Homo sapiens: one gene and its partners. The protein of the gene in region 3 interacts with the protein of the main gene of each other region in a pairwise test. Each region holds a gene or a part of one and is shown on either strand. Other genes may lie near its edges. The genes, in order: ARSJ, MVP, ZMIZ2, DISC1, SS18L1, MICOS10-NBL1 and SSX2.

The links.
Region 1: the proteins of ZMIZ2 (region 3) and ARSJ interact in a two-hybrid assay, tested with the Homo sapiens proteins (one large-scale study listed by BioGRID).
Region 2: the proteins of ZMIZ2 (region 3) and MVP interact in a two-hybrid assay, tested with the Homo sapiens proteins (one large-scale study listed by BioGRID).
Region 4: the proteins of ZMIZ2 (region 3) and DISC1 interact in a two-hybrid assay, tested with the Homo sapiens proteins (one large-scale study listed by IntAct).
Region 5: the proteins of ZMIZ2 (region 3) and SS18L1 interact in binary tests that used the Homo sapiens proteins (3 or more experiments, as listed by UniProt).
Region 6: the proteins of ZMIZ2 (region 3) and MICOS10-NBL1 interact in binary tests that used the Homo sapiens proteins (3 or more experiments, as listed by UniProt).
Region 7: the proteins of ZMIZ2 (region 3) and SSX2 interact in binary tests that used the Homo sapiens proteins (3 or more experiments, as listed by UniProt).

Annotation. Positions count from the first base shown.
Region 1 is NC_000004.12:113,972,799-113,977,138, reverse strand, and holds part of ARSJ (arylsulfatase J isoform 1 precursor), read left to right. Parts: intron 1-3,334; exon of another isoform or gene 3,335-3,427; intron 3,428-4,340.
Region 2 is NC_000016.10:29,830,154-29,834,493, forward strand, and holds part of MVP (major vault protein), read left to right. Parts: intron 1-320; exon of another isoform or gene 321-361; 5' UTR 362-396; coding exon 397-521; intron 522-724; coding exon 725-920; intron 921-3,579; coding exon 3,580-3,703; intron 3,704-3,781; coding exon 3,782-3,913; intron 3,914-4,340. UniProt on the Homo sapiens protein: Required for normal vault structure. Vaults are multi-subunit structures that may act as scaffolds for proteins involved in signal transduction. Vaults may also play a role in nucleo-cytoplasmic transport.
Region 3 is NC_000007.14:44,761,913-44,766,252, forward strand, and holds part of ZMIZ2 (zinc finger MIZ domain-containing protein 2), read left to right. Parts: intron 1-968; coding exon 969-1,074; intron 1,075-1,343; coding exon 1,344-1,501; intron 1,502-2,506; coding exon 2,507-2,574; intron 2,575-3,028; coding exon 3,029-3,097; intron 3,098-3,422; coding exon 3,423-3,667; intron 3,668-4,054; coding exon of another isoform or gene 4,055-4,089; exon of another isoform or gene 4,090-4,112; intron 4,113-4,251; coding exon 4,252-4,340. UniProt on the Homo sapiens protein: Increases ligand-dependent transcriptional activity of AR and other nuclear hormone receptors.
Region 4 is NC_000001.11:231,695,984-231,700,323, forward strand, and holds part of DISC1 (disrupted in schizophrenia 1 protein), read left to right. Parts: intron 1-4,340. UniProt on the Homo sapiens protein: Involved in the regulation of multiple aspects of embryonic and adult neurogenesis. Required for neural progenitor proliferation in the ventrical/subventrical zone during embryonic brain development and in the adult dentate gyrus of the hippocampus.
Region 5 is NC_000020.11:62,170,957-62,175,296, forward strand, and holds part of SS18L1 (calcium-responsive transactivator), read left to right. Parts: intron 1-1,725; coding exon 1,726-1,845; intron 1,846-3,560; coding exon 3,561-3,688; coding exon of another isoform or gene 3,689-3,775; exon of another isoform or gene 3,776-4,340. UniProt on the Homo sapiens protein: Transcriptional activator which is required for calcium-dependent dendritic growth and branching in cortical neurons. Recruits CREB-binding protein (CREBBP) to nuclear bodies.
Region 6 is NC_000001.11:19,603,479-19,606,978, reverse strand, and holds part of MICOS10-NBL1 (neuroblastoma suppressor of tumorigenicity 1 isoform a precursor), read right to left. Parts: intron 1-3,500. UniProt on the Homo sapiens protein: Possible candidate as a tumor suppressor gene of neuroblastoma. May play an important role in preventing cells from entering the final stage (G1/S) of the transformation process.
Region 7 is NC_000023.11:52,704,076-52,708,919, forward strand, and holds the start of SSX2 (protein SSX2), read right to left. Parts: upstream 3,104-4,844; 5' UTR 3,037-3,103; intron 1,695-3,036; 5' UTR 1,675-1,694; coding exon 1,606-1,674; intron 1,168-1,605; coding exon 1,053-1,167; intron 518-1,052; coding exon 422-517; intron 1-421.

The DNA of each region.
Region 1 (4,340 bases), on a different chromosome or scaffold from region 3:
CATGTCTGATTCCAAACACCCTTATATATGGCTCATGAAATAAATGTCTCACAAAGCCTCACTGGACCTCTTCAACTAACTTATAGAATTTAGATTTACACAGATAGCCAACTGTGGTTGAAAATAAGTAACTGAACTATATGAATTTATTTTTCACAATAAAGCATATGTTCAAGGCTTTTCACCAAACAAGAAAATTTGTTCTTAAACATTATCTTGCACTGAAACAATATGTAGGTTTTATCTTTTAACCATTATGTTTACTTAATAAAATGAAAGAGAAACTAAGCTGGAAATATTTCCTAATTTTTCTCTTTGGTGAAAGATTAACGTCTCTGTAATTTCAATGCAATCAAACATCTGATGAGATTTCTTTTCTCATTAAAAATTTTTATTTAGTGCAACAGGTTGTATAACTTTTATAGACAAAAAGTACAAATAGCTACTGTGATTTGATTTAAATTTCTATTTGAATTAAACATTTGAATACTTTTTCACTTGCAATTTCTCCTTTTAGACAAATTGCTGGAACCTTCATTTAAATGAACACAGATGTAAGAAATAAAGCAGTTATGGAAGCCCAGTTCTGGACTCATTATTAACCCATTTATGCCTGAGGTTGCAATGTTTTGAATTTTTGCAATCAGCCCCTGGCAATGATCTTGGGCAGTAGTATATAAATTACTCCCACATGCTTAGAATTCCAATAATGGAACACTAGGCATAAATGAGTTAATAATGCAGGTCCCAGAGAATATGGTCATTTGTTCTCTCTATGAACACATGTCTATGCCTTGTGGATCTTCTAAATTAAAAAAGGAAGCCATAAAAAAAAACTGAAATGAACTAAACTATTTTAAGGGAAATAAAATGGGTTATGTGAAGTGTGACATGATTCAAATATCTTCACATGACAAAGAGTTTACATAATTGAAGCTGAAGTTACTTTTGATTCTATTAACAAAACAGCCCTCCCTTTATATTTTTCTGGAGTCAAAAATTAAAAATCCATTTTCTTTTACTACACGAATCTGTAACAAATTGCAGATTCCCTTAATAATTTACATCATACTAGTCTGGCAATATTGATTATCAGTCAGCCTGTCAATAAGCGTTCATGTGTACAGACCCCTGCATTGGAGCCATGAAGAAGAAACAAGAAGTGAGCCCTAATCTCTGGATAGTAGTTCTCAAGTTGTAGTGTGCAAAAAGAATCAGTCCAAATGCTAGTTAAAATGCAGATTTCAGGGCCCTTCAGCTTTGGTAGGTCCGGGGTTGAGTCTAGAAATCAATAGTGATTTAATGAGCATGTCAGGTTATTGTGATGATGACATCATCAAAAATAAATTAAGACTGTTAGTATTAAATGTTAGCGTCTGCTGAGCAGTCACTGTGTTCTGGGGTAATGAATTTTATATGCATTGTCTCATTTAATCCTTGCAACAACTTTAGATAGTTGCTCTTGTCATGCCCATTTTATATTGATGTGGCAACAGATTCTAAGAGGGGTAGTGATGTAGGGATTCTATGCACTGGGCTTTGAGAAACAGCATTCTAGGTGTTCACAGTTGTCCTGATGAGATAAAAGGTTGATTGGGAAAGTGACTGCCTGTGTTTGATTTATTTCAAAGTAATTTACTCACTTCTTTTTTTACAGTTTTGCAAATAAAGATATGGATTAAAAATATCATTTTTTTCTTAAAAGAGAATATAGTGAAGGCTTCATAAAGTGAATTATAAGTTTTGCAAAACCTAGACATGTTTTATGCAGACTTTAGAGGAGGAAAGGTTGACAATCTGAATTGAATTTGTATCTTTGATAGTAATTTTGTGTTTTTACTATTTTGTTACTCATTTATCCCACTTGAAATACCATGATGATCACTGTTAACAAATGTGAAGGAAACTCAAATAATGTTTATTTCTAATAGGATATTTGATAAATTCACTGTGCTTAAAACAACCCCCTACCCAACTGGTATCCCTCACCATGGATAATCACTCTCCCAGTTTCTCATACCTTAAATTAATTTTGCCTGGTTTTGAACTTTATACAAATGGAATTACAGAGAGGGTACTCTTCTATGTCTGGTTTCTTTTAGCATTATGTTTGTAAAATTTTTCCATGTTGTTGCCTGTACATACTCACTATCATTGAATAGTATTCCTTTGCATAAGCATATTACAATTTATTTACCCATTCTACTGTTAATAGACATTTGGGTTGTTTTCATAGTTGGGTTATTATAAACAGTGCTACCATAAAAATACTTGTATATGTTTTTTGTGAACATAGGTTATGCATTTCTCTTAGATATCTATCAAGAAGTGGAAATCCTGGGTTAAAGGGATGTCTGTGTTCAGTTTTGGTAGATACTGCTCAAGTTTCCCAAAGTGATTCTACCAGTTTGTACTCTCACCAGTAACTGTATGGAATGTTCTACTTGTTTCACATCTTTGTCAACATTTAGTATTATCTTTTTTCATTTTAGCCACTCTGGTCATTATGCACTGCTACATCATTATGGTTTAAATTTGCATTTTCCTGACAACTAATAAAGTTGAGCATCTTTTCACATTTTTATGGACCCATTTTATATCCCCTTTAAAGAAGTATTTATTCAAGTATTTTGCCTAATTTCTCTTTAGATGATTGTTTCTGCCTTATTAATTTGTGGTAGTTATATATTCTATTCCTTTGTTAGATATTTGTATTGCAAGTCTCTTTTCCCCTACTGTGGCTTGCTTCTTCACTCTCCTCAACAGTGTTTTGGTTTTTTAGTGTATGTTTTTTAGTGGTTTTGGTGTGTTTGGTTTTTTTTAGCGATTTTTCATTTTTTTTATTAACGGGAGGTTTTAATTTTCTTGTAATCCATGTTATAATCTTTTTCTTTTTATGTCCTATTTAAGAGATTCTCCCTACCCCAAGATCATGACCATGGTCTTTTATCCCTAAGAGTTTTATTGTTTTGTTTTTGTATTTAGATTACGATTCATCTGAAATTAGTTTTTAGTATGGTGTAAATGAGAGTTCAAGATTATTTTTTCCATGTGTATACCCATTTGACCCACACTGTTTATTAAAAAGACCATACCGTCTCCATTGCACTGCAGCATCACCTTTTCATAAATCAGATGAATGCACATGTTTGATCTGTTTCTGCACTTTTCCATTCCAATTCTCATTGTTTTCGCTATCGATTTGTTGTGTCAATGCTATGTTCTCTTAACTACTATAGGTTTATAATAAATATTAATATCTTGAATGTAAAACCTCCTGCTTGTTCTTCAAAATTGCCTTGGATATTTTTTACCAGTTCATTAATTTTCCTAGGAAAGAAGAGAGAGTATAGATGTACAGATGCAAATAGCTTGGAAGATTTGGTTTTGGGACTCTGAAGTAATTCTCTTCTGAATTATCCTACAGGTAATTAGCTGAGAAGGAAGATCTGAAGGTTTAACGAGAGAGGGCGAGAGATACAAAATATCTGCTAGGAGAGTAAGAAAGTGAATTGGGTAAAGAAATGCAGTAAAAATACTGGGATGTAACGAGAGCCCACTTGAGATTTGTGGTCATAAATTTTAACAGACACCAGGCATTTTTTGTTTGTTTTTCTCCCACCCTGCTTGGTGCTTGTGTGCAGAAGTACAGTTGAAGAGGTGGAATTAACTAGTTTTTGAGATTTGCCAAATAATTAGCATGGTGGATCATGGACCCTTTGCAAAGAAAGGGGGAATACTATGGGGGCTTATGTTCTCTTAAAAAGTGCTGAGGTCAATAAATTAACTGTCTGGATGTCATTGAAATGAGAACACCATAGTAAACTTGGAAAGTTGAAAACATAGATAATAGTGATTGGGAAAGTATATGCAGGGGATCAAAATTTAGTTATGTAGTACAGGTTTTGAAAATTATATGGTAATGAGTGCTAAGGTCAGATGGGGTAAAACATCTTTGGAAGTAAGGAAGGCAAAGTATTTCAAGGACAGAGTGTTGAATAATCACTCCCATGGATATCCATTGAGAAATCACTGAGAATAAAAAGAGAAATAGTAGCAAAGACGACAGCGAGCCAGTGCTGGGATCATCTGTGAATGAGGGATCAGGTTCCGGAAAGGCCTGAAATTGGATGAAGGACTCTAACAGCAAAGATAATGAGTCTATTGTCTGTTGCCTTACTTTTCAAAGGCATTGAGCTTTTAAAGGGAGACAAGAGCCAAAATTGTCTAGAAGTGCCAGTGAGAAACTAAGAGAGCACCCATACCTGCTCCAGGCTCTGTGAATATTGGGATGTGAGTAAAAGCCCGGCCCCAACTTGAAAATATGGCAGGGACAGCCA
Region 2 (4,340 bases), on a different chromosome or scaffold from region 3:
GCTGTATCTCTCCACCGTAAGAGACTGGGAGCACCTTGATCTGAAGCTCTTTGCAGTGCCGGTGGCAGTGTAGGGGGAAGTAGTTGATGGGAGTGAGGGAAAGGAATTGGCAAGGAACCCTGGGCCTCTGTGGCTCACTGCATCAAGCAGTTCTTGGCAAAGGTAAGGTCAGGATGGGCTGTGTCGTCTTGGGTGGGGTGAAGACAGGGAGCAGTGGGCATGCAGATGCGGACAGGGAAGGGTGCAGTGGCCTGGCTGGAGGAGGTAGGGCCGTATCCCACCCAGAGTCTGTCACCAGATTCATGCCTGCCCCACCCCAGGCTCCCCAGGTTCATCCTGTGTCGTCTCCCCCACCTACCAGTCATCTTCTTGTGAGCCCTGGGCTTAGGAGTCACCATGGCAACTGAAGAGTTCATCATCCGCATCCCCCCATACCACTATATCCATGTGCTGGACCAGAACAGCAACGTGTCCCGTGTGGAGGTCGGGCCAAAGACCTACATCCGGCAGGACAATGAGAGGTGGGTGTGGGGGCTGGGCTGTGGGGGATCCTTGGGGATGTGGGGGCCTGTTTGGCTGGCATGATGGTCCTTATCCTCCTCCCTCTTCCCAAGCAGGAGTGGCCCTCGCTTGGGCGATAGAGAGGTTTCTCTCTCATTTGGTGTCCTCTTTGGTAGTGGAGACCTGGTCCCAGGTCCTCACACCTCTTCTCATCTTCCTGCAGGGTACTGTTTGCCCCCATGCGCATGGTGACCGTCCCCCCACGTCACTACTGCACAGTGGCCAACCCTGTGTCTCGGGATGCCCAGGGCTTGGTGCTGTTTGATGTCACAGGGCAAGTTCGGCTTCGCCACGCTGACCTCGAGATCCGGCTGGCCCAGGACCCCTTCCCCCTGTACCCAGGGGAGGTGCTGGAAAAGGTACCTGGTTTCCTCACTCCCTATGCCCCACCCTACCTGTCCTCCACCTGCCTTGGGCTCTATACTGCTGCCTTCTTCTTCTTTTTTTCTTTTCTTTTTTGAGGCAGAGTTTCACTCTTGTCGCCCAGGCTGGAGTGCAGTGGCATAATCTCGGCTCACTGGAAGCTCCACCTGGGTTCAAGTGATTTTCCTGCCTCAGCTTCCTCAGTAGCTGGGATTACAGGCACCCGCCACCACGCCCGGCTAATTTTTGTATTTTTAGTAGAGACAGGGTTTCACCATGTTGGCCAGTCTGATCTCAAACTCCCGACCCCAGGTGATCCACCTGCCTCGGCCTCCCAAAGTGCTGGGATTACAGGCATGAGCCACTGTTCCCGGCCTGTACCGAGTTCTAAAGGGAAAACAAACCAGGGCAGTGGGAGGGGTGGGGAGAGACACTTGCTGGCTCTCACCAAGGGTGGAATTGACTCACTGTACCTCCACTCACCTCCAGCCACCCCCATCCTCCACACATGCCCCAAACACACCTGCCTCTTTTCTGAGAACTGTTGGCCCATCTCACCTTCCCAGGCTCCAGAGCCTACCAGAAGTGCCCAGCCAGTCTGGCATTAAATGACATGTGCCAAGGTTAAGCAGTTCATTCACCCGGTGCCAGACACTGGTGGGCAGTGCCAAAGCAGCAGTGACAAGCCCAGGCCCCAGGCTGTGCCTGTTCTAGGAGAAGCCATCACAGGCCTGAACCTACAGCCAGGCTCTTGTCCCCGTTGGCCTCAGGCCTGGGCCTGAGCAGGTGGGTGTCCCACCTTCATTCCTTTACCTGTTCTTCCACCTTTACCTTCTGGCCATTTAATGGTTTTGGGTTTTTTGTTTGTTTGTTTGTTTGTTTTTAATAGAGACGGGGTTTCACCGTGTTAGCCAGGATGGTCTTGATCTCCTGACCTCATGATCCGCCCGCCTCGGCCTCCCAAAGTGCTGGGATTACAGGCATGAGCCACCGTGTCCAGCCCCATTTAATGGTTTTCTTACTGACTTTACTAACCAGTGCTGCTTGATCCTGAAAGCATAATAGCAGAACATGGGGAACTTTTAGAGACATTCATGTCCACTTAGGTGCAGACAGTTTGGGGGAAGAAGTGTGTGTGTAGAGAGAAAATGAAGAATGATTAAGACAATAACCCTTAAGGAATCCAAGTGAAAAGTATATAGGGATTCTTGTACCTTTTTTTTTTTTTTTTTTTTTTTGAGATGGAGTCTCACTCTGTTGCCCAGGCTGGAGTACAGTGGCATAATCTCGGCTAACTGGAAGCTCTGCCTCCCAGGTTCACGCAATTCTCCTGCCTCAGCCTCCCGAGTAGCTGGGACTACAGGCGCCCACCACCACACCCGGCTAACTTTTTGTGTTTTTAGTAGAGATGGGGTTTCACCGTGTTAGCCAGGGTGGTCTCGATCTCCTGACGTCATGATCCACCTGCCTTGGCCTCCCAAAGTGCTGGGATTACAGGCGTGAGCCACCGCGCCTGGCCTTTTTTTTTTTTTTTTTTTCTGGATCTCCCCCTGTTGCCTAGACGAGAGTGCAGTGGGGTGATCATAGCTCACTGCAGCCTCAACCTCCTGGGCTCAAACGATCCTTCCACCTCATTCTCCCAAAATGCTGGGATTGCAGGTGTGAGCCACCAAGCCCTGCCTAAGCTTTCATTTTAAATATGTTCAGCCGGGCACAGTGGCTCACGCCTGTAATCCCAGCACTTTGGGAGGCCAAGGTAGGCAGATCACTTGAGGTCAGGAGTTTGAGACCAGGCTGGCCAACATGGCGAAAACCCATCTCTACTAAACATACAACAATTAGCCAGGCGTGGTGGCATGCGCCTGTAATCCCAGCTACTTGGGAGGCTGAGGCATGAGAATTACTTGAACCTGGGAGGCGGAGATTGCAGTGAGCTGAGATTGCGCCACTGCGCTCCAGCCTGGGTGACAGAGCAAGACTCTGTCTCAAAAAAAAAAAAAAAAATTAGCTGGGGGTGGTGACACACCTGTAATCCCAGCCACTCAGGAGGCTGAGACAGAAGGATCACATGAGCCTGGGAGATTGAGACTGTTGTGAGCCATGGTTGTACCACTGCAGTCCAGCCTGGATGACATAGGAAGACCCCATCTCCAAAAATAAAAAAAAGCCAGCTCTTCCTTTGAGCCCCAGTTTCAGTTCAAAGGGCCTTCTCTAACTTCTCCTTCATCTGAACTCCTGAGACAGGGTCTTGCTCTGCTGCCCAGGCTGAAGTGCAGTGGTGCAGTCATAGCTCACTGAAGCCTTAACCTCCTGGGCTCAAGTGATCCTCCCACCTCAGCCTCCCGAGTAGCTGGGACTACAGGTGTGCGCCGCCACCATGCCTGGCTACACTTTTTTTTTTTTTTTTTTTTTTTAGAGATGGGATCTTGCTATGTTGCCCAGGCTGGTTCTTGAATGTCTGAGGTCAAGCAATCCTCCTACCTCAGTCTCCCAAAGTTCTGGGATGACAGGTGTGAGCCACTGTGCCCGGCCTCCACCCCAGTCTTATTTCAGGACATACAGAGATGGATGTTGTGGACCCGCCTCCAGAGCATCAGGCTTGGCCCTGGGGTCACAGCACTGATGGTTCTGTGTCTCCACCTTCTTCCCCACTAGGACATCACACCCCTGCAGGTGGTTCTGCCCAACACTGCCCTCCATCTAAAGGCGCTGCTTGATTTTGAGGATAAAGATGGAGACAAGGTGGTGGCAGGAGATGAGTGGCTTTTCGAGGGACCTGGTAAGTTCTGTCTCCATAGGGCTCCCTGCCTTCCTGTCATAGCCCTGATACCTTCTGACCATCACCTTCCCTCCCCAGGCACGTACATCCCCCGGAAGGAAGTGGAGGTCGTGGAGATCATTCAGGCCACCATCATCAGGCAGAACCAGGCTCTGCGGCTCAGGGCCCGCAAGGAGTGCTGGGACCGGGACGGCAAGGAGAGGGTGACAGGTGGGGTCACCAAGGGGCGATGATGGTGGGTGGGCAGGAGGGGTCCCCACTGCAGGGGAAGCAGGGGAAGGTTGAGGAAAGCCTCCTGTAGCCCCAGAGAGGCGCTTTCCTGGTATCTTTTGAAAGCTGTTGAGGGCCACCCACTGCTCTTCCTTCCCCACCCCCGCTTCATGCTGTTTCCACTTGGGCTGGAAAATGTGACCATGACCATGCGGATGTGGCTTTTCCTTCCCTCACCTTCACCATGAGCTGTGGGCAGTGGCCATGACTTACCTGATTCTGGATCAACAAAGAAGATGTTCAAATACAATTGACAAATGTAGGCCAATAGGTACAGTGGCTCACACCTGTCATCCCAGCACTTTGCCAAGGTGGGTGAATCGTCTGAGCCCAGGAGCTTAAGACCAGCCTGAGCAACACAGTGAGA
Region 3 (4,340 bases):
TCCTGCGCCGAGGGGGCGGTGCTGTGGCGTGGGGCGGGGTGTGGTGGGGCCTGGCCCAGCGGTGCCGTGGGGTGGGGCGGGGTGTGGGCGGGGCCTGGCCCAGCGGCGCAGTGGGAGCGGAGCCAGGACATGGGCGGGCCGGCCTGCAGCACCATCAGATCATGCCGCCGTCTGCTGTTTTGCTGTCCACCGCCTGCTGTAGCATGTGTGCCCCCTTGCAGGGTGGAGAGCAGGACGTGGGGGCTTTATTATTTCAGAAAAATGCGTTGCTTCTCTTTGTTACTGCCTTGTATTTCTATTTTAATCTGTCATCCTTGCCCTTTAAGAAAGCGATCCAGTAATATACCCTAGCTGTTTTCCAGTTAGAGTAAATTGACTAGATTTGATGCTCACATTAATTATGTAAGAGAAACCAGGATATGCAGAAAGCTCATGGAGCTCGGAGTCCCCGGCTGATCAAGCATTACCGGTTCTAGCAAGCATCAGGGTCACCCTTGGGCTAGAGAAGAAAGACATGGCTTATGAGTGCACTAGTCAGCCTGGGCATGAGGGCCTTGGGGACGGGTTGGCCACACACCACATTGTCTGGGATGTGGCAGATGTCAACACAGACCCAGCATCTGTGACTGTGGATGTGCGAGCAGGGGGAACGTTCAAGGGGACTTGAGGTGATTCTCTTCATGGAGAAGTGGTGACTAGGCAATGGTTAGACCGGCAGGATGCCCAGCACAGCTGTAGAGATGGATACAAGCGTGGGCAGGGCGCTGAGGCCAGGAAAGGCAGCTGGATGGGGCCAAGCCACTGAGGAGTTTTGTTGGCTGAATCCCCACCCCCAGCTCACCCTGCCCTCAGCCTTGTCCCTCCCCCACCTGGCAGCCCCTGACACACAACCCCCAGCACACCCTTTACCTGGCCAGGGTGGCCCCTGGCCCAAGTCCCCCTGATGACATCCTCCCGTTGTATTGCAGTCCCACCTCTTCGTGCTGCAGCTAGTGCACCGCCCATCCGTCCGCTCGGTGCTGCAGGGCCTCCTCAAAAAGCGCCTCCTGCCTGCTGAGCACTGCATCACCAAGAGTGAGTGGCTCCTGCCCCTCAGCTGCCAGGCAGCCATCCCCATTCTGTGTGGCCCAAGCCCAACAATCCTCCTTGTGGGCACCTCCTCGTGTCACACCAGGCCTTCTCCTTGGACAGGTGGCTCTGCAGTAGGGGCAGTGGTTAGTTCCAGGTGGCCCCTCAGAGCTGTCAGTGGGTCAGTGACTGGGTCCCTGCCTCGTTGGCATCCCCATTCACACCTCCCCATCTTGGGGACCCTTTACTCAAGTCCTTTACCTTGTTGATGTCAGTAAAGCGGAACTTCAGCAGCGGCACCATCCCTGGCACCCCTGGGCCCAACGGAGAGGACGGGGTGGAGCAGACAGCTATCAAGGTGTCCCTGAAGTGCCCCATCACCTTCCGCAGGATCCAGCTCCCTGCCCGAGGTCATGACTGTCGCCACATACAGGTAGGTGGTTACTGCAGAGTCTTGCCGGAATTTGCTGCTGCTAAAATATCTTGAGTCGATACATCAGTGTCATTCTCTGGACAGACGTGAACTCCGAGTGCCTTGGCTGTCAGGCTGACAGGACAGGCCTCCCACGCCAAGGAGGCAGGTGGGCCTGGCTCCCCCAAGACTAGGCTATTTTTTCTTCCAAATATAATTGTCATTTTACTAACTTTTTTACTGCCTGCTTCATTCATGGGTTCAAGTTTTGAAAGGCATAAGATTGCAGGGTCCAGTCTTCCTGCCCTACCCCCAAGGGTGACCATCGTTAGCATCTGTCTTTGCAGAAATACTCTGGGTATGAACAAGTAGATGCACAGCCCACTGTCTCTGTGGTTACATAGTGGTCCCTATTGCACAAACTGCTCTGTGCTGTCGTTTTTCTTCTTTTAACACCATGTTCTGAGGCTGGGCGCGGTGGCTCACACCTGTAATCCCAGCACTTTGGGAGGCTGAGGTGGGCAGATCGAGGTAAGGAGTTCGAGACCAGCCTGGCCAGCATGGTGAAACCCTGTCTCTACTAAAATTACAAAAATTAGCTGGGGCATGGTGGTGTGTGCCTGTAATCCCAGCCACTTACGAGGCTGAGGTAGGAGAATCGCTTGAACCTGGGAGGCGGAGGTTGCAATGAGCTGAGATCGAGCCACTGCATTCCAGCCTGGGTGACAGAGCGAGACTCTTGTCTCGAAACAAAACAAAAATACCATGTTCTGGAAGTGGGTCCCAGTCAGCACAGCTGCCCGATGCTTGCTTTGGCCACATGGCATTCCAGTCTCAGTGAGAGCTGTTTGGGCTGTTCCCAACCTTGATCCATTAGAATGATGTTGCAGTGAAAACCTGGTACATGCAGTATCTCAGTTATGCATGTAAATAAGTCACACATTCCTGAAAAGGGATTGCAGAGTGACCAGATTTTCCCTGTGCTACCCACAATGAGAAACTGACTTTCTTCCCATCTCTCTACAGTGCTTTGACCTGGAGTCGTACCTGCAGCTCAACTGTGAGCGGGGGACTTGGAGGTGTCCTGTGTGCAAGTGAGTCTCAGATGCAGCGTGTGATGGAGGAGGGGCTGGTGCTTTTAGAGGCTTTCATGGGTGAAACCTCCAACAGCATCATCAAAGATACGAGCCTGCTGGGAGGAGTCACTGCATGGACTGGGGTTGTGCAGCTCAGCGCAGAGAGCTCGTATAGGGTGGCCTTATGCAGGGTCATCTCATGCAGTCACCTTGTGCAGAGTCACTTCACACAGGGTCACCACATGCACAGGATCACCTCGTATTTTCACCTCACACAAGGGTCAGTCACACAGGGTCACCTTGTACTGTCACCTCACATAGGGTCAGCTCACACAGAGTTACCTTGTTCAGTTGCCTCACACAGGATTGCCTCATGCAGGGTCACAGCTGACAGGGCTGAGAAATGACAGGGCCTGTGCCCAGGACAGGGTTGTGCAAGGTCTCTGAGCTGTGTCCCTTTTTTTCCCCACAGCAAGACAGCTTTGCTGGAGGGCCTGGAGGTGGACCAGTACATGCTGGGCATCCTGATTTACATTCAGAAGTAAGCATCCTCTTCCTGTGATCCCTGCATCTGTGGCCACTGGAGGGCAGCCCCAGGACATGTCGGGGGATGTCCCTTGCCAAGTGCAGCCTTCCAGCCTTTTTCCGGCATGGAGCAGGCTGGATTCCAGGCCAGAGACAGCGTGTGTGTCCTACCTGAGTGTTGGTGCTGGGCCCAGCGTCCTGCTCGATGTGGAAGGTGCTGGGTGGAAGCAAGCATTTGAGTGGGGGAACCTGCCTGGAAACAGCCCAGGGCTGGGAGGGGCAGTGGGTGCCGGGCCAGCAGCAGGCCAGGAGGTAACCATTCCCCACCTGTCCCTGCCCAGCTCTGACTATGAGGAGATCACCATCGACCCCACGTGCAGCTGGAAGCCAGTGCCCGTGAAGCCTGACATGCACATCAAGGAGGAGCCGGATGGGCCAGCACTGAAGCGCTGCCGCACCGTGAGCCCCGCCCACGTGCTCATGCCCAGCGTGATGGAGATGATCGCCGCCCTGGGCCCCGGCGCTGCCCCCTTTGCCCCCCTGCAGCCCCCCTCAGTCCCTGCCCCCAGCGACTACCCTGGCCAGGGTAAGTACAGCAGGCTAGCCTTGAACCTCAGATGACCCTGGGCATATGGCTCCTCTCCCCAGATCAGTCTCCTCACCTGCAAGAATGTGGCTATGCAGGTCACACACCTAGGTTATCAGTGTTGCCACACAAAACATGCCGCGGGGCACCTCCAGCCCCTCCCATCTCAGGGACGTGGCGGTGAAGGCACAGTCTCAGCTATGGTCCCAGGAAACAGACAGTGGGGCCTCCACCCTTCCTTCCCCGTTTGGATTAAGGGGCTCCTGGCTGGAACACCTCACAGGACTGGCCCCATCTGGGGCCCCCCTCTGGGACCCACCTCACACGCGTGGTGCGTTTGTTTGTGGCTGCTCCCATTCCTATAACCTCCGAGACCTTCACTCCTAGGAATGTCCCAAGGCCAATTCCCTTGGCAGCAATGAGAAGAAATGCCCTTTTCCAAATAGCGACTTCTGCAAAACCCGCTGTTGTTTGTGGGTGAGCACTGCAAGTCCCACCCATGCCACAGCCAGCCTCCCTCCTGGCTCCTCTGCCAGCGGTGGCCTTCCCCAGCCCTCACCCAGGCCCCGACTCTCCTCTCACAGGTTCCAGCTTCCTGGGGCCTGGAACTTTCCCTGAGTCCTTCCCACCCACCACGCCCAGCACCCCAACCCTTGCTGAGTTCACCCCGGGA
Region 4 (4,340 bases), on a different chromosome or scaffold from region 3:
TGGAGTCTTCCAGTTAGTCATTGCCTAAACCAGTGCCCCTTGTCTTTCCCCGAAACCCGTTCTGAAGGGCCTCCAATATTGGTTGATTTGAATGCATAGAATCTATCCAGTTTCTTAGGCCAGAAACCACAACCATCTTCCACACCTCCCTCTCCCTTGTTCCACATCTGGCTGGCCTCCAAGCCCTCTCAGTCCTACTGCTAATCTGTCTCTCATCACCATGGCCGCTGCCCTGGCTCAGATCCTTGTTATCTTTCACCTGGGTTTTGCAAGAGGGTCTACCTTCCTGCGGTGTTTCTCTTCTCCAGTTAATTAAACTAAATGTGATCATATGTGCAAAGTGCTTCAGACAGGGCCTGGCATCTAGCAAGTACCCAGAAATTAACCATTGTCATCATTAGAGAAATAGCTCCAATTTAGAGAGTTTGAGTCAAAAGCAAATGAAGCTCTCCCTTCTGTCCATAGCTCAAATTAAATTCCTATCTTATCTCAAATGGTAGAATCTGGACACACTTTTTCTTTAGTGTAAGTATTGTTGTCTATGGCAGTCCCACAGCTGGGCAGGGAAAAACATGACACTCTCTTCAATTACACTCATGTACTGCATAATGACATTTTGGCCAATGACGGATCACATATATGATGTGACAGTGGTCCTGTGAGATTATCGTACTGTGTTTTTGTTGTACCCTTTCTATGTTCAGATATGTTTAGATACAACAATACCTTACCATTGTGTGACACTTGTCTGCAGTATTCAGTACAGTCACATGCTGCACAGGTTTGTAGCCAAGGAGCAATAGACTATTCCATCTAGCCTAGGTGTGTAATGGGCTACACCATCCAGATTTGTGTAAGCACACTCTACGATGTTCACACAATGATGAAGTCACCTAATAATGCATTTCTCAGAATGCATCCCTGTCATTAAGTAACGCTAGGCTGTACTTGAGTATCTGTTGTGTGACAGCGGAATTAACAGAGTAGTGGGAATGACAGAAATAACACAGTCCAGGGCATAGGACTTACAGGAAGGCAGAGTTTGCCTCAATAGGAGGAAGAACCTCTTGACAGTGGGAATTGTCTGTGATGAGGTGGGCTGGTCAGGGACTTGTTTTCCCATGGTGCTTACACAGAGGCCCCAGACTGCTCACTGGGGTTGCGGCTGAGGCCTTCGGGACAGGGCAGAAGGTCGGTGAAGGATCTCCAAAAAGATCCTTTGAAAGAGTAGGATTTCTAGTGTTTGGGGGCCTTATTGATATTATATTTTAATTCCTTAACCTCCTCTCGCTTCTACTTAAGTAAAAATGAGAATCTCAGGAATTTAAGTTTCAGCTTCTTCTAAAAGATGGTTGATCCTCAGTGTTTGTGGATTCTATATGTGTGAATTCGTCTACTTGCTAAAATTTGTTGTTAACTCCAAAATCAGTACTCACAGCACTTTTATGGTCATTTTTCATTTTTATTTTATTTTTTAAGAGACGGGGTCTCTGTCTTCCAGGCTGGGGTGCAGTGGTGTGATCATAACTCACTGCAACCTTGAACTCCTGGGCTCAAGCGATTCTCTTGCCTCAGCCTCCCTAGTGGCTGGGACTACAGGCGCATGCCACCATGCCTGGCTAATTTTTTTTTTTTTTTTTTTTTGGGTAGAGATGAGGGTCTTGCCACGTTGCCCAAACTGGTCTTGAACTCTTGGCCTCAAATGATCCTCCTGCCTCAGCCTCCAAGGTACTGGGATTACAGGCATGAGCCACCATGCCTGGTGGTAATTTTGAACCTGCACAGAGTGGCAAAATATTTGGGTCACCTGATGTACACGCTTTCTACTTAGGTCAAACAAGTTCAGACCAGATGACATTCTACCTTCTCTCTCATACTACAAACTAGTATCCTTTTTGTGGTCTATTTAATGCCATCTTTTTTTACATTTTTGTGCTCTTTATTGGTGAGTTAACCATTGCAAAAGCTCCCTAAGCATAGTGCTAATGTCATCTAGTGCTCCTAAGCATGAGAAGGCTGTGATGGGCCTGATGGAGAAGATACAGGTGCTCCAGAAACTTTATTCAGGCATGAGTTAGAGTGCTGTTGGCCAGAGTACAATGCTTATGGATCAATAATACATATTAAATAAGATGTTTTTAAACAGAAACACACATAGAACAAGGTCATGTGTTGACCGATGGAGGAAGGTGTTGTGACCAGGGGTTCACAGGAACCTACCCTGTATTTCTCTTAGGAGCAATGCTTCATTATTCCCTAATTCAGTATTCACAGAAACTTTATAGAACATAACTACAGTACTGTGAATAAGGAGAATCGACTGTGAATATTTTATGCTGTTTAGAAATCGCTGCTTAGCGAGATTTCCAGGGGTTGCATGGGACTGAGAAGATGGTAATAAAGGTAGTTGGTGACCAGGCATGCAGAGGAGGGGAAGTGGAGTGGGCCCTGCAAGGTAGGCTCCACCTAAGGCCATGGAAACTGGTGAAAAATGAAGGACTCTGCCTGTAGAGTATTATAGGACGTTCCACAGGCAGGGTTGTGGCACAGTGCAAGACATGGCCACTGGGGCTGTGCCTCCAGCAAAGACGGGTATTCAGACATATCTCAGGGCAGTCCATTCAGGGCCTTATAGAGATCACTGGACGAGGTGGGCATCGTGGGGTGGGCTTTGGCTGTAAATGAATTTTTTTCCTGACCTTGTTTCCTGCATTTCTTCAGCTTCTGTTCTAATAAATGTTTAATGATACCATCATTTGGGTGTGGCGATGGTAATGCTATAGCTTTATGTGGCCCTCAAACCATTCACACAGCCTTTCTTCTGTCCCTAATATATAGGACTAAGTTACTGGTAAACTTTGCAGTTGTAATATAGAACAATTCAAAGACAAAGGGGTTAATATGATTATTCATTCATTCTTTCATTCATTCAGAAAGCATTTATCAATGACAACGAGTACAATGCCTTATCCTAGGCTTTGGAGATTGTATTAGGACAGGCTAGTAACAGGCACTACGTTAGAGGCTCAACACAACAAAATTGTGTTTTTTGCGTATGCTTCATGTTCCACAGAGATTTTTGGGGGGCAAGAACCCAGCCTGCACCATCTGAACATATGATCCCCTTAGTCACAGACTTGAGGAAGAGAATGTTAGGGAGTCCTACAAGAGCGATCAAATGCTTCAGCGTAGAGGTAACCCCATCACTGCCACTCATACCCTGTTCAGCAGAACAAGGAGAGAGGCACTTGTACTCTTTCCATGTGCCCAAAGCAGTGGAAAATCAAGTCAGTGTAAGTACTAGCATCCTATACATGGATGCAAAATAGTTCTTGCCCCCCAGATGCTCAAGGTTGAATGATGTGCACAGATAAAACCAAACAAAGGAAAATGATGGCTATAACCTGGTGCAATAAGTACTCCATTCTTCCAGTGGGTCAGAAAAAAAAACCCAAAAAACAAAAAACAAAACAAACCTTGGCATCATCCTGGTGCATTTTCCTCAGACCCCACCTGTGATGTATTAGCAAATCCTGTTGGCTCTATATTTAACCAGCGGTCTTCTGAATATAACCGGAATCAGATCACATCTCACCATCTTCACCATTGCCACCATCCTCACTATCATCCAAGCTCCTGTCATCTCCTTCCTGAATGTTCCCATAGCCTCTTACCTGGCCTCCCTTCTTCTGCTCTTACTAACAGCAGCCAGAGTGAAACTGTTTAAAACATAAGTCAGATCATGTGCTCCTCTGCCCCAAACTCTCCAGTGGCGCCCCATGAACTTCAGAGTAAAATCAGAACTTTTAAATGGTCTTCATGTCTCTTCTTGACACAGTCCTCATTACCTGTGTGACCTCATTCTCTACAGTTTTCCCTTACATCAATCTGCCCCAGATCCAGTGGCATTCTTGCTCCCTCTTGCTTTTCATTTCACTTTCACTTCTTGCTTTCTTACCAGAAACACTTCTGCCTGAGCCTTTGTACTGGCTCTTCCCTCTGTGGGAATATTTTTCTCCCAGACAGCCTCGTGGTTCACTCCCTTACCACTTTTAAATCTTTGTGTAAATGTCACCATCTCAAGGAGATCAGATTTCAAATTGCAACCTCTACCCTCTACCAGCATCCCTGATCCCCATAACGTGGTTCTCCCTTTTCCTTTTTCATAGCATTAATCACTTGCTAAGGTGCCATAAAACTTACAGTTGACCCTTGAACAACACGGGTTTGAGCTGCAAGGGTCACTTATATGCAGATTCTCTTCCACCTCTGCCACCTCTGAGACAGCAAGAACAACCTCTCTTCCTCCTCCTCCTCAGCCTACTCAAGATGAAGATGAT
Region 5 (4,340 bases), on a different chromosome or scaffold from region 3:
AGTGATGCGATCTCGGCTCACTGCAACCTCCTCCTCCTGGGTTCACACCATTCTCCTGCCTCAGCCTCCCGAGTAGCTGGGACTACAGGCTCCCGCCACCATGCCGGGCTAAATTTTTTGTATTTTTAGTAGAGACGGGGTTTCACCATGTTAGCCAGGATGATCTCGATCTCCTGACCTTGTGATCCACCCGCCTCGGCCTCCCAAAGTGCTGGGATTACAGGCGTGAGCCACCGCACCCGGCCACAAACTGGCTCCTTTATTATGTAAAGAATAAAGTGGGCTATAAAACATGAGAATATGCAGGCTGACCCCCAAAAGCCTGACACCCTTGAAAACCCACTCCCCCATGTCTCAGATGGCTTTCATGGGGGCAGGAGAAAGGATAGTGACCTTAAGTCTTCTCCCGTGACGGTGACAGCTCGTTTGCCAGCTGTTGCTGGAACCGGCCCTGGATTTAGAGGAAGGCGTGGAAGTTCAAGACTCAAGATACTTCCTGGATAGAGAATAACTGGAAAGGCTCAAGTAAGTTTTTCCGAAGCTCTCGCCTTAGGAGGAGTTCAGCCTGGAATAAGAGCGTGTGTTAGTTTTGTCATCCCACCTAACTACAGATTGAATTACCCTGATAGGTTTTTAAGCCATTCCAGTGTGCATTATCTCAATAAAGCTGTTATTTAAAAAAAATACTAGATTGCAGTTTTAAAATACTTAAATTTTACAGCTTCTAAAAAAGGAAAGTTATTTCCAACCAGAAAAGTAAAGTAGAAAATGGATTCTTTGCGCAGAGCATGGTGGCTTACGCCTGTAATCCCAGCACTTTGGAAGGCAGGGGCAGCAGGATTGCTTGAGGCCAAGAGTTCGAGACCAGCCTGGGCAACATAGAGAGACCCTGTCTCTACAAAAGATTTAAAATTACCTGGGCATGGTCGGGCACCGTGGCTCACGCCTGTAATCCTAGCACTTTAGGAGGCCAAGGTGAACGGATCACAAGGTCAGGAGATCGAGACCATCCTGGCTAACATGGTGAAACTTCATCTCTACTAAAAATACAAAAAATTAGCCTGGCGTTGTGGCGGGCACCTGTAGTCCCAGCTACTCGGGAGGCTGAGGCAGGAGAATGGCGTGAACCCGGGTGGGGCGGAGCTTGCACTGAGCTGAGATCTCGCCACTGCACTCCAGCCTGGGCAACAGAGCGAAACTCCATCTCAAAAAAAAAAAAAAATTATCTGGGCACGCTGGCACACACTGTAGTCCTAGCTACTTGGGAGGCTGAAGTGAGAGGAACACTTGAGCCAGGGAGATGGAGGCTGCAGTGTGCCCTCATTGCACCACTGCACTCCAGCCTGGGTCCCAGAGCGAGGCCCTGTCTCTGAAAAAAAAAAAAAAAATTATATCTGCAAAGACCCTATGTCCAAATAAGGTTCCATTCACAGGTACTTGGAGTTAGGACATCAGCATCTCTCTGGGGAGCACATTTGACCCGCGACGCTGGCGTTCATCTCTGTCTTAGTTGTCATATTAACCATTTCGTTTCTTAGCTTTCCATTTGTATTTCTATAAGATAAAGGTGTAGTATAGTATTTGAATGGTTGTGAAAAAATAAACATGCCGAAGCAATGGATTTGGTTTTGGGATTCCAAAGTTACCGTGTCGTGAGTGGGCCACAGAATGAGCCCCCTTAGCCCAGGTGGGGAAAGTCATTTCTGTGTCTCCTCCTCCCTCCAGGAAACTCCCAGTACAGCCAGCAGCAGGCCGGGTACCAGCAGGGTGCCGCGCAGCAGCAGACGTACTCCCAGCAGCAGTACCCCAGCCAGCAGAGCTACCCCGGGCAGCAGCAGGGCTACGGTAAGAGGCGAGCACGGTCCTCGGGGCCCCCCAGCGCCCACCCCTGCCCCTGCCACACATGGGTACGTGCTCAGTACCCCAGCCAGCAGAGCTACCCTGGGCAGCAGCAGGGCTACGGTAAGAGGCGAGCACGCTCCTCGGGGCCCCCCAGCGCCCACCCCTGCCCCTGCCACATGTGGGTACGTGCCCGGTGACCCTGGTGCTCAGGCAGATGTGTAATAAACTTATTTTGAATACCTTTAGGTTTCCAGAAAAGTTGGAAACATCCATGCACGTAGACCTGAAACATCTTATTTTAACTTAAACATAAATTCATTGCCCACGTGGCCTGTGACGGGAGCCAGTGTCCCGTGTATCCATCACCTGCACGCCTCAGGCCCAGCTTCAACCTCTTTGACAGAGCAGGTCAAAGCCTGTGGGTCTCAGCCTTCACTGCAGCTTACAATCACCCAGGAAACTTCTGAAAAATAAGGTGTGGGCTGCCCCAGGTCTTTTGTTGGAGCAAGATCTCAGTTCTCAGGATGAGCTCCACACACGTGGTTTCTTATGAGGCACGTGCCTGATTCTGCTGTGCTTATTCAGCCCTTTACAGCCATTACTAATTAAATAGTATAAAAATTACTTGAGGCCAGGCGTGGTGGCTCACGCCTATAATCCCAGCACTTTGGGAGGCTGAGGTGGGCGGATGACCTGAGGTCAGGGGTTCAAGACCAGCCTGACCAATATGGTGAAACCTCGTCTCTACTAAAAATACAAAAATTAGCTGGGCATGGTGGTGGGGGCCTATAGTCCCAGCTACTCAGGAGATGAGACAGGAGAATTGCTTGAACCAGGAGGTAGAGGTCGCAGTGAGCCGAGATCACACCACTACACTTCAGCCTAGGCGATAGAGTGAGACGACTCCTCAAAAAATAAAAAAATAAATTACTTGAGGCTCAGTGTGGTGGCTCATGTCTATAATCCCAGCACTTTGGGAGGCTGAGGCAGGAGGATTGCTTGAGCCCAGGAGTTCGAGACCAGCCTGGATGACATAGTGAGACCATCTCTACAAAAAATACAAAAATTAGCCAGGCATGGTGGCACACTCCTGTGGTCCCAGCTACTTGGGAGGCTGAGGCAGGAGAATCACTTGAGCCTGGGAGGTGGAGGTTGCGGTGAGCCAAGATCACGCCACTGCACTCCAGCCTGGCTTGGGTGACAGAGTGACACCCTGCCTAAAAAAAAAAAAAAAAATTGGCCTCTATCAGTTCTTGCCGGAGCCTTTGACTTAGCCTTCCTAGAGACGATGTCTCTGTCTCACCTGCCTGCAGGTTTTCAGCAGCTCCCGTGGTAGTTCAGTGACAAGTTACAGCAGCCAGTGTGACTGGGGCCAGCGGGTTCTGGAGGGCTGTCCTGCCTTCAGGTAGCAGCAGTTCTGGGGTGATGGAGAGAGCCCATCAGCCCTCGCCATGCTGGTGGGGGGCCTGGGGCACAGTCCTGGGACCTCACAGGACTGGAGGGGCTGGTGAGTCGGTTACGTGGTGCTCTCGCTGTACAGAGTTAACGTGGAGCCACGTGCAGGTGCCAGGTGTTCTGGAGATTGACAAAAGGCTGATGCATTGAGACGGGAATTTTTCAAGGAGAAGAGGAAGTTTTAAAAAAAATTTTTAAGTTAAGAAAAAAAAAGAAAGAGGTGTCCGTTTTGGCCGGCCTCACGGTTCCTGGTGTCTTCTCAGGGTCTGCCCAGGGAGCCCCGTCACAGTACCCCGGCTACCAGCAAGGCCAAGGCCAGCAGTACGGAAGCTACCGAGCACCGCAGACAGCGCCGTCTGCCCAGCAGCAGCGGCCCTACGGCTATGAACAGGCAAGCTTTCTGGATGTTTCCAGATGTGCCCATCCGCCGCGCCTGTCGAGACATAATGAAGATTTCTCTTATGGCCATGAGGAATAATGAGCTGGAACTAACTGGCTTCCAGGGTTCCTTCCAGAACGTTAAGTCTCTGAGCCTGTAAGGTTTTGCAGAATTGCCTCTGTGTATACGCTCACCTCAGTCATCCAGCTGGCTTTTCATACCCTAAGCTCACCGTTAGATCTGCACGCCTGGTTCTCACATTCATTCACTCTGCCAGTGTTTGTCACGTACTGGGTACGCGTCCGGTCTCTGCTGAGTGCTTGGTGTGTGGCCGCGACACGAACCCTGCACTTTTAGAGCTTATGTCTCGCTACAGAGACATAAGGTGGTCCCACAGGGCCAGACTGTGCTGAGGACAGAGCGGGGGGCCCCAAATGGAGCCCGCCTTCCAGATGGGGGCGCAGGCGACCGCATTTGGCCCGTGTGGGCAATTCCAGGACGAAGACACAGCGGGGAGTGGCTGGCAGCCCCAGGCTCAGCCTAGGGAGGGGGAAGCCCTTTCTGCCCAGGAACAGTGAGCAGGGCTTTGAAGGAGCTGAGGAAAGAGCAGCTTGGAAGATGGAAGAGCGGGAGCTCTCGGGACAGTGAGGAGGCCGGTGTGGCG
Region 6 (3,500 bases), on a different chromosome or scaffold from region 3:
ATCTATCAGATGAACTGATACTTAAAGAAAAACAATAATTTGCTTTCTTTTTCCATGACTATTCAATGGCCTCTTTTAGTATTTTTTTAAACATTAAAATGGCTTCAAACAATTTAACTAGACTTGATTATTGAATGAATACACAAAATCTGCTGGTTAACTTTAATTCTAAGGCAAGTCAGCTTCTAAGTCTTTTACTGTCCTACTTTTTTTCTTTCTTTTTTTTTTTGGAGACAGAGCCTTCTTGTTCTGTCGCCCAGGTTGGAGTGCAATGGCCTGATCTTGGCTCACTGCAACCTCACCTTCCCAGGTTCAAGTGATTCTCCTGCCTCAGCCTCCTGAGTAGCTGGGATTACAGGCATGCGCCACCACACTCAGCCAATTTTTATATTTTTAGTAGAGATGGGGTTTCACCATATTGGCCAGGCTGGTCTCAAACTCCTGACCTCAGGTGACCCACCCTCCTCAGCCTCCCAAAGCGCTGGGATTACAGGTGTGAGCCACCGTGCCCAGCCCTGGCCATACTTTCGTAACAAGGAAGAAGCAAGGCCGAATCCTTTCTTTTCATAAAGATGAATGCATGATAAACCAATAACTTTCATCTGTTAACTGAGCTGCATATAATTAGAGACCTATCTCAAGACATACTAGAAATTAAGAAACTACAAAATGTTATTCCCCTCTCTGCCTCTCCTATTTGTCAAAAGCAACACCATGCTCATTTATGTAGGCTTGGCACCACCTGACTCCTCCCACTCCTGAGCCTGCATTTCAAGTTCTGTAAATATAAACTCTGTACTAGCATCATTATATCTCTCTTTTCCACTCCTGCTGCTCCCCTCTTAGTTCATGCTTCCTCTCATTTGATCAGCTCATCTTTGGCAAGATTTTGCAATAATATACTAAGCTAGCTCCCTGCCCCCACATCCTAGCACTCCAGAGAGTTATTCATTCTCATCACATCAGTGATCTTTCTGAAATCAGAAATTCAACCACGTCACTTTTCAGCTTACCATTCAATGAATTTCTTCGAATGCTAAACATAGAATTGCCACACAACCAAGCAATTCCACTCCTAGGTATATATCCAAGAGAGATGAAAACATGTCCACATAAAAACTGGGGGGCTGAGCACCATGGCATGCACCTGTAATCCAAGCTACTCAGGAGGCTGAGGCAGGAGGATCACTTGAGCCCAGGAATTTGAGACCAGCCTGGGCAAAACAGACCCCATCTCAAAACAAAACAAAAATGTGTACACTTGATCACAGCAGCATTATTCATAAAATTTAAAAGCGTAAACAAACTAAATGTCCACCAACTGACAAATGGATAAACAAGATGTAGTACAAATACACCACACAACATTATTTGGTAACAAAAAAGAATGATGAACAGATAAATGCAACAGCATGGATGAATACTGAAAACACTACCTAAGTCAAAGAAGCCGATACAAAAGACTACATATTATATAACTCTTTATGTAAAATGTCCAGCATAGGAGACTCCACAGAGACAAAAAGTAAATTGGTGGTTGCCTGGGGCTAAGGTTGGGGTGAGAGTTTGGGAATAGGAGCAGCTGCATCCAGTGTTTCTTTTGGGGGAAGCTAAAAATATTCTAAAATTAGATTGTGATAATTGCACAATTTGGTGAAAAAACTAAAATTGTACACTTTAAATAGGAAAATGTATGCCATGAAATATATCTCAACAAAGTAGTTTAAAAAATCTCCACAACTTCCTACACCCTTCCACCTTTCCTGCCTCATCTTTTGTCCCTCCCCACATAAATCCTTTAACCCCAAAGGATAAAATCTCCTGCATTAACATGTGATAGCTACAAGAATGGGGTTCACCTTCCTACCCTTGCAGCTGTAGCCTGTGATCCTAAAGGAGGGATTCTGCCACCATGAGCTTCCATTGTAAAAATGGAGAAATATCTTACAAGGATATGAGATAATGATGTAAAATATAACATGCTCAGCACCGTGCCTGGCATGCGGTTAAGTGCTCAATAAGTGATGGTCATTCTCATCATTCCCAGAAGGAACCAAAGTATCCCTCTCCTTTGGGACACCTTCAAGGAGTGAAACACACTCCCCCACCTGGTCCACCTATTAAATATCTGCATATTTTCCAAAATGGGGGTCAAATGTCCCTCATCCTTTTCACATTCCTCAAGGCAGTAAGCCCCTCGAGGGTAGGGCCAGTGCCTATTCACCTGTGTGCCACCCCCTGCCAAGGCTTACCACAATACCTGGTACTAAATTGTTTCAAGAAGTACACATTAATGATTACTATTACATATATAAACATGAATATTGATTATCAGACCTACAATAGCCACGACCCACAATAAGACCCACCTACGACCCACAATAGCCAAGATCAGGGTAAATGTGTTAATCATTTTAACTCTTTTACCTCTACTCTTCAGCGACAGCCTCCAGTTTTTATTTATTTATTTGAGACCAAGTCTCACTCTGTTGCCCAGGCTGGAGTGCAGTGGCTGCATCTTAGCTCACTGCAACTTGCTACTCCCGGGTTCCAGCGATTCTCATGCCTCAGCTTCTCGAGTAGCTGGGACTACAGGTGCGTACCACCACACCTGGCTAATTTTTTGTATGTCTAGTAGAGACTGGGTTTCACCATTGTTGGCCAGGCTGGTCTCAAACTCCTGGCCTCAAGCGATCCACCCACCTCAGCCTCCCAAAGTGTTGGGACTATAGGCATGAGCCACCACACTCAGCCTCCAGTTAATAATATTTAGTAAGTACAGGCAACGTCCTAACTGCTCTAGAGATTATCTCATTTTATCCTCACTTGCAACTACCCTCTGGGGCAAGTACTATCATTTTATAGATAAGAAAACTGAGGCTGGGAGGTATTTACTGGTACATTTATTTTGAATGAAAAAAATGAGGAAAAGAAAAACAAAATGACTGTGTATGCCACTACAGTTCACTGAATTGAATACATTCTAGGGGCTCCTTGTAAATGTCCATGGCTTGCCTTTTTTCTTGCTACTAACGGAAATCACTGTTGTGCTTGACACACCTGGCTTGCCAGGACAGTCTTTTCCAGGAAACTCTCCAGCTTTGGGACCTCTCCCTCCACCATGACATCTCCTCCCTGCCTTCATCCCAGCCAGCCCTCTGATTCATTCTCATCAATGATTTTTCTGAAATCAAAAATTCAACCATGTCACTCTTCAGCTAACCATTCAATGAATTTCTTCAAATGCTAAAATACAGAGTTGCCATACAACCTGACTTCTATTAGAATAAACTAGAATTCTAAACCAATACATGGATTAGTAAGACTAGATATTCCTTACTCTGGTCTCACATTGGAGCAAAACAAAGAGAAAAGGGACACAGCCAATTTTAAAGCTATCCAAGTCACACTAGGGATTCCCAGGACCTCCGTATGAATCCAGGAAGTGCCAGAATCAGATTTTCCTCAAAGCGTCCTCTGGCAAATCCATAGTCTGAGGA
Region 7 (4,844 bases), on a different chromosome or scaffold from region 3:
TGCACTCTACCCTGGCCGAGAAGAGTGAAACTCCATCTCAAAAACAAAAACAAACAAAACACACTATCAACAAGTCACAGCTGAAGCTGTCTGTGCCGCACTCAGTAATCCCTGCCCGCCCTCCCTCCCTCCTCCACTTACAGCCAGTCACCTTAATTTGATGGCTTTTTATTCACATTCATGTTTGTATACATTTACCATTTACTTATTATCCATAAAATATATATTCTTCTTTTGCATGTTTTAAAATTTTATATGAATGGCCTCTGTAGTTAACTTTCTGCATGCAATTTTTTTTTTTTTTTTCACTCAGCCCTGATGTGTATGAGGGAACAAATGCCTGAGGATCTTTCTCAGGTAGCTGAGCTGAAAAGCAGCTGGGCTTGAGGAGACCCTTTCCAGCCCCTTCCCATCTACTCACCCTGATTCCCACGGTTAGGGTCATTATCCAAATCATTCCCCTGGAAGTCTTCGGCCCGTTTATTACACATGAAAGGTGGGAGGGTGGCCTTGAAACCTAGAAAGAAGCAAAATGTTTATTCCTTAAGAGACAAGCTTGGGCCTGGTATGGTGGCTCATGTCTGTAGTACCAACACTTTGGGAGGCTAAGGCTGGAGAATTGCTTGAGGCCAGGAATTCAAGGCTGCAGTAAGCTATGATTGCACTACTGCCCTCTAGCCTAGGTGACAGACTGAGACTGACTCAAAAAAAAAAAAAAAAAAGGAAGAGACAAGCCGAGAGAAGGTAGGGTGGGTGTGTGTGGGGTGGGGGTAGGGGGGTTGCCGGGATGCCACAGAGACAGTTGGGCTCATCAGAACAGAAGCCTAAGGGAGAGAAACGTGCAGGATCCAGGTATAAGCTCCACTGTGGCCAGTCCCTGCCCTCAGCCCTGACAGGATACAGAAGAGCAGAACACCCAGAAGCTGCCTTGCGATTTTTCCCTGCACAAAAGGAAAATGTGAGGTACTTTCTGCAGCCTAAGAAGTAGCCAAAGCAGGAAAAGGGATGCTCATGTGTCCCCAGACTTGTCTGTTCCCAGAACTTTCTGTTACCTAGTTTAGTCATAGCCTCATACTTTCTCTTCATATACACATAGAAGATTTTCTCCGAGGCTTTCATCTTTTCCCACTCTTCCTTAGAGAAGTATTTGGCAATATCATCGAAGGCCTACAAAAAAAAAAAAAAGGAATTATGGCAGGGACTCAGCTAGGCATGTCTGCCATTCAGCTGGAGCCGCTTCCTGTGTGCTAGATCTGGGAACTGGGGATGATAATCCTTCCTGGTTGATGCCATGGCTAACTGACAGAACACGAGGGACCTTCCCTAGCTTCACCCCTGCCACACAGTAGGGCTTTAATGCTGCTGGCTGGCTCTCTTCCCACCTTCCAGAATGGACTGAGAGTCACCAGATGTAGTGCAAGGTCACAGACTTGTCTCCAGGGATGCTAGGTGATGACAGAGCGAGGGTGGGAGGCTCCCAAGGGTCCAGATCTCCCCCGAGACCCTGCTCCTTGTCTCCAGTATCTCTGTCCTCCCCTCCTCAGAAACCGGGTCACCCCACACTGTCCCCTGGGCCACTACTCTGCTCCCTCCAGGTCACCTCACCTTTTGGATCTTCTCTGGTATTTGAGCACCAACCGTGGGTCTCCTTGCAAAGGCGTCGTCTCCGTTCATGGCACCGGGAGCAGTCTGACCTGCAAGAGAAATAGCCTGAGTCTTTCCAGCCACAGCAGCTTTGATCCTGTGGAGGGAGAAGTCAGTGAAGGCCGGCCACCCTCAGTCACCTGGAATCAGCTGCTGCATTTCTCCATCCGGGGCTTATCTGTCCCTGAGTAAGGATATGGGGAGAAATCAGATGAAAACAGGGAACCAGGGGTCTCTGGGAGAAGTATTGATAGGGAATGACAGGTTTCCTATGGGCAAAGCAGCCTTGAGTCTTTGGGAGGGGGTTGGCTAATGTTGTTAGTAGTTTCCCTGGAGCTAGGCTTACCCTGAAAGATGTACGGACCCTTTTTGGGGAGGCAGGGACATGACTGTGTAATTTTATTCAGTGGGGGCATGCTGACACCCCCACTCAATAAATAAAGGAAGGGAAGTTAGTCCCAGAGATAACATGGTCTCTTTGGCGATGGATCTGATCAGGCAGAGGGATGGGGGGTTCTGTTCTGTTGAAGAGAAATGAGCATCGCTAATATGAACGTGTTCAGAGGCTATTACTCGGTGATTTGTAAATTATTAGAAGGAAGAGAGCTAGAATTTCTGAGACTACAAGAGCCCGCCATCACTTAGAGAGAATGTGGGGCATTTCAAGATGCAGCAATCAGCCAGGCGCCGTGGCTCACGCCTGTAATCCCAGCACTTTGGGAGGCCGAGGCGTGCAGGCCGCTTGAGCCCAGGAGGTCGAGACCCGGCTGGGAAACACAGCAAAACCCCCGTCTACAAAATACACAAAAAGTTAGCTGGGGTTGGTGGAGCAGGCCTGTACCATCCCAGCACTTTGGAAGGCCAAGGTGGGCGGATCGCCTTAGCCCAGGAGCTTGAGACCAGGCTCGCAAACGTAGCAAAACCATCTCTACTAAAAAAAACAAACAAAATTTAGCAGAAGCGGGGTGGTGCGCGCCTGTAGCCCCAAGGCCTAGGCGAGAGGCTCACTTGAGCCCAGGAGGAAAGATTTGAGTGAGCTTTTTTGGTTTTTGTTTTTTCAGACAGGGTCTCGCTCTGTTGCCCAGTCGGGAGTGCACTGGCGTGATCATGGCTCACTGCAACCTCCGCCTCTTAGGTTCAGGCGATCCACCAGCTGTGGCTTCCAAAAGTGCAGGGATTACAAGTGTAAGCCACCACGCCCGGCCCAAATTTCTTAAGTTACTACAGAGTTCCTAGGAAAAATCCCGTACCTGAAAAAGTTAGAAACTGACAGGAAAGATTCGAGATGGCGGCCTGCCTCATATACACTCCTTATTAAAACTAGATAGCAAATGCACCGCGGAGGAGGGGAGGGGTAGGAAGAATGGAAAAAGAAAATCGGCGTATGCTTACTCTGATTTTGGAAGAATCCAAAGAGAAAATCAGACCGTGCGTACTCTGAGTATGGAAGAATCGAAAGAGAGAGAAAGTCAGAGCATGCGTACTCTGAACTTAAAGTAGCCAATCCCAGGGGATGCTTTAGGCGGGAAAATTAGAGTCTCCACCCCCACTTTGAGAAGGTTCCGTCCCTGGAGCCGGGACTGATAGAAGCCACATCCGCTTCGCTTGTTCCGCCTACTGTTCTGACTTCTAATTGGCCAGATGGAGTTCACTAACTGCCCTGATTGGTCCATCATCCTTGGGCAGTGACATAGCAGAATAATGTCTCCTCCTCCAGCCACACTTTGTTGCCACTGCGAAAAAGTGGGTGGTCCTCAGGCGCCGTCAGATTTTGAACTCTCTGAAGACCGTTCCTGGATCTTGGGTTAAAAATCTGGATTCTAGTCTGAACTGTGGGAAGAAAAAAATAGTCAATCTGTGATTTTTCTACTTGAAAGACACGATGTTTTCCAAACTAGCACATTTGCGGAGGTTTGCTATACTTAGTCGTGGCTTTCATTCTTCAGTGGCTTCTATGTCTGTTGCCACTGAAAAAACAGTCCAAGGCCCCGCAACCTCTGCTTACATTTTTGAAAGGGAATCTTAAGTATGGTGCGCACAATTACCATCCTTTACCTGTAGCCCTGAAGAGAGGAAAATGTATTTACTTATGGGATGTGATTGTGGTATTGGTTACATCTGCCTTGGCCAATCCTCCAGCCTCCGTCTTGGGACTACAGGCGCGAACCACCCTACCCCCACTAATATTTTTTATTTTTTGATTTTTTAATAGAGAAGGTTTCGCTGTGTTGGCCAGGCTGGTCTTGACGTCGTGGGCTCAAGCGATCCTCCCACCTCGGCCTCGGGACTACAGGCATTCACCACCCAGCCCACGCTTTTTTTTTTTTTTTTTTTTAAGTAGAAACCAGGTTTTGCTATGTTGGCCAGGCTGGTCTCATCGTCCTGGGCTCAAGGGATCCTTCCGCCATGGCCTCGAGACGACAGGCATGCACCACCCTGCCCACGCTTTTTTTTTTTTTTTTTTTTTTAGTAGAAACCGTGTTTCCCTATGTTGGCCAGGCCGGCATCAAGCTCCTGGACTCAAGGGATCCTCCCATCTCAGGACTACAGCCATGCACCACCCTGCCCAAGCTATTTTTTGTTTTGTTTTGTTTCGTTTTAGTGGAAACCGGGTTTCGATATGTTGCCCAGGCTGGCCTCAACCTCTCAGGCTCAGATGATGCTTCCACCTCGGCCTCAGAACTATAGGCGTGTGCCATTCTACCCCGCTCATTTTTATTTATTTATTTATTTATTTATTTTTTAGGAGAGGCAGGCTTTCGCTTTGTTGGCCAGGCTGGTATCAAACTCCTGGGCTCAAGCAATGCTCCCACCTTGGCCTCAAAACTACAGGAGTGAGCCACCCCGCCCACGCTATTTTTCTGTTGTTCTTGTTGTTAGCAGAAATGGGGTTTCGCTATGTTGGCCAGGCTGGCCTCGACCTCCTAGGCTCAAGCAATCCTCCCGCCTCGGCCTCGGGACTATGGGCTCACACCACCCCGCCCCCACTAATATTTTTAATTTTTCTATTAGAGACAGTTTCGCTATGTTGTCCAGGCTGGGCTCTACCTCTGGGACTCAAGTGATTCTCCCGCCTCGGCCTTGGGACTACAGGCATGCACCACCCTGCCTTTTGCTATGTTTCCCAGGTTGGTCTTGACCTCCTGGGCTCACTCAATGATTTGAACCCGGGAAGTGGAGGTTGCATTGAGCTGAGATCA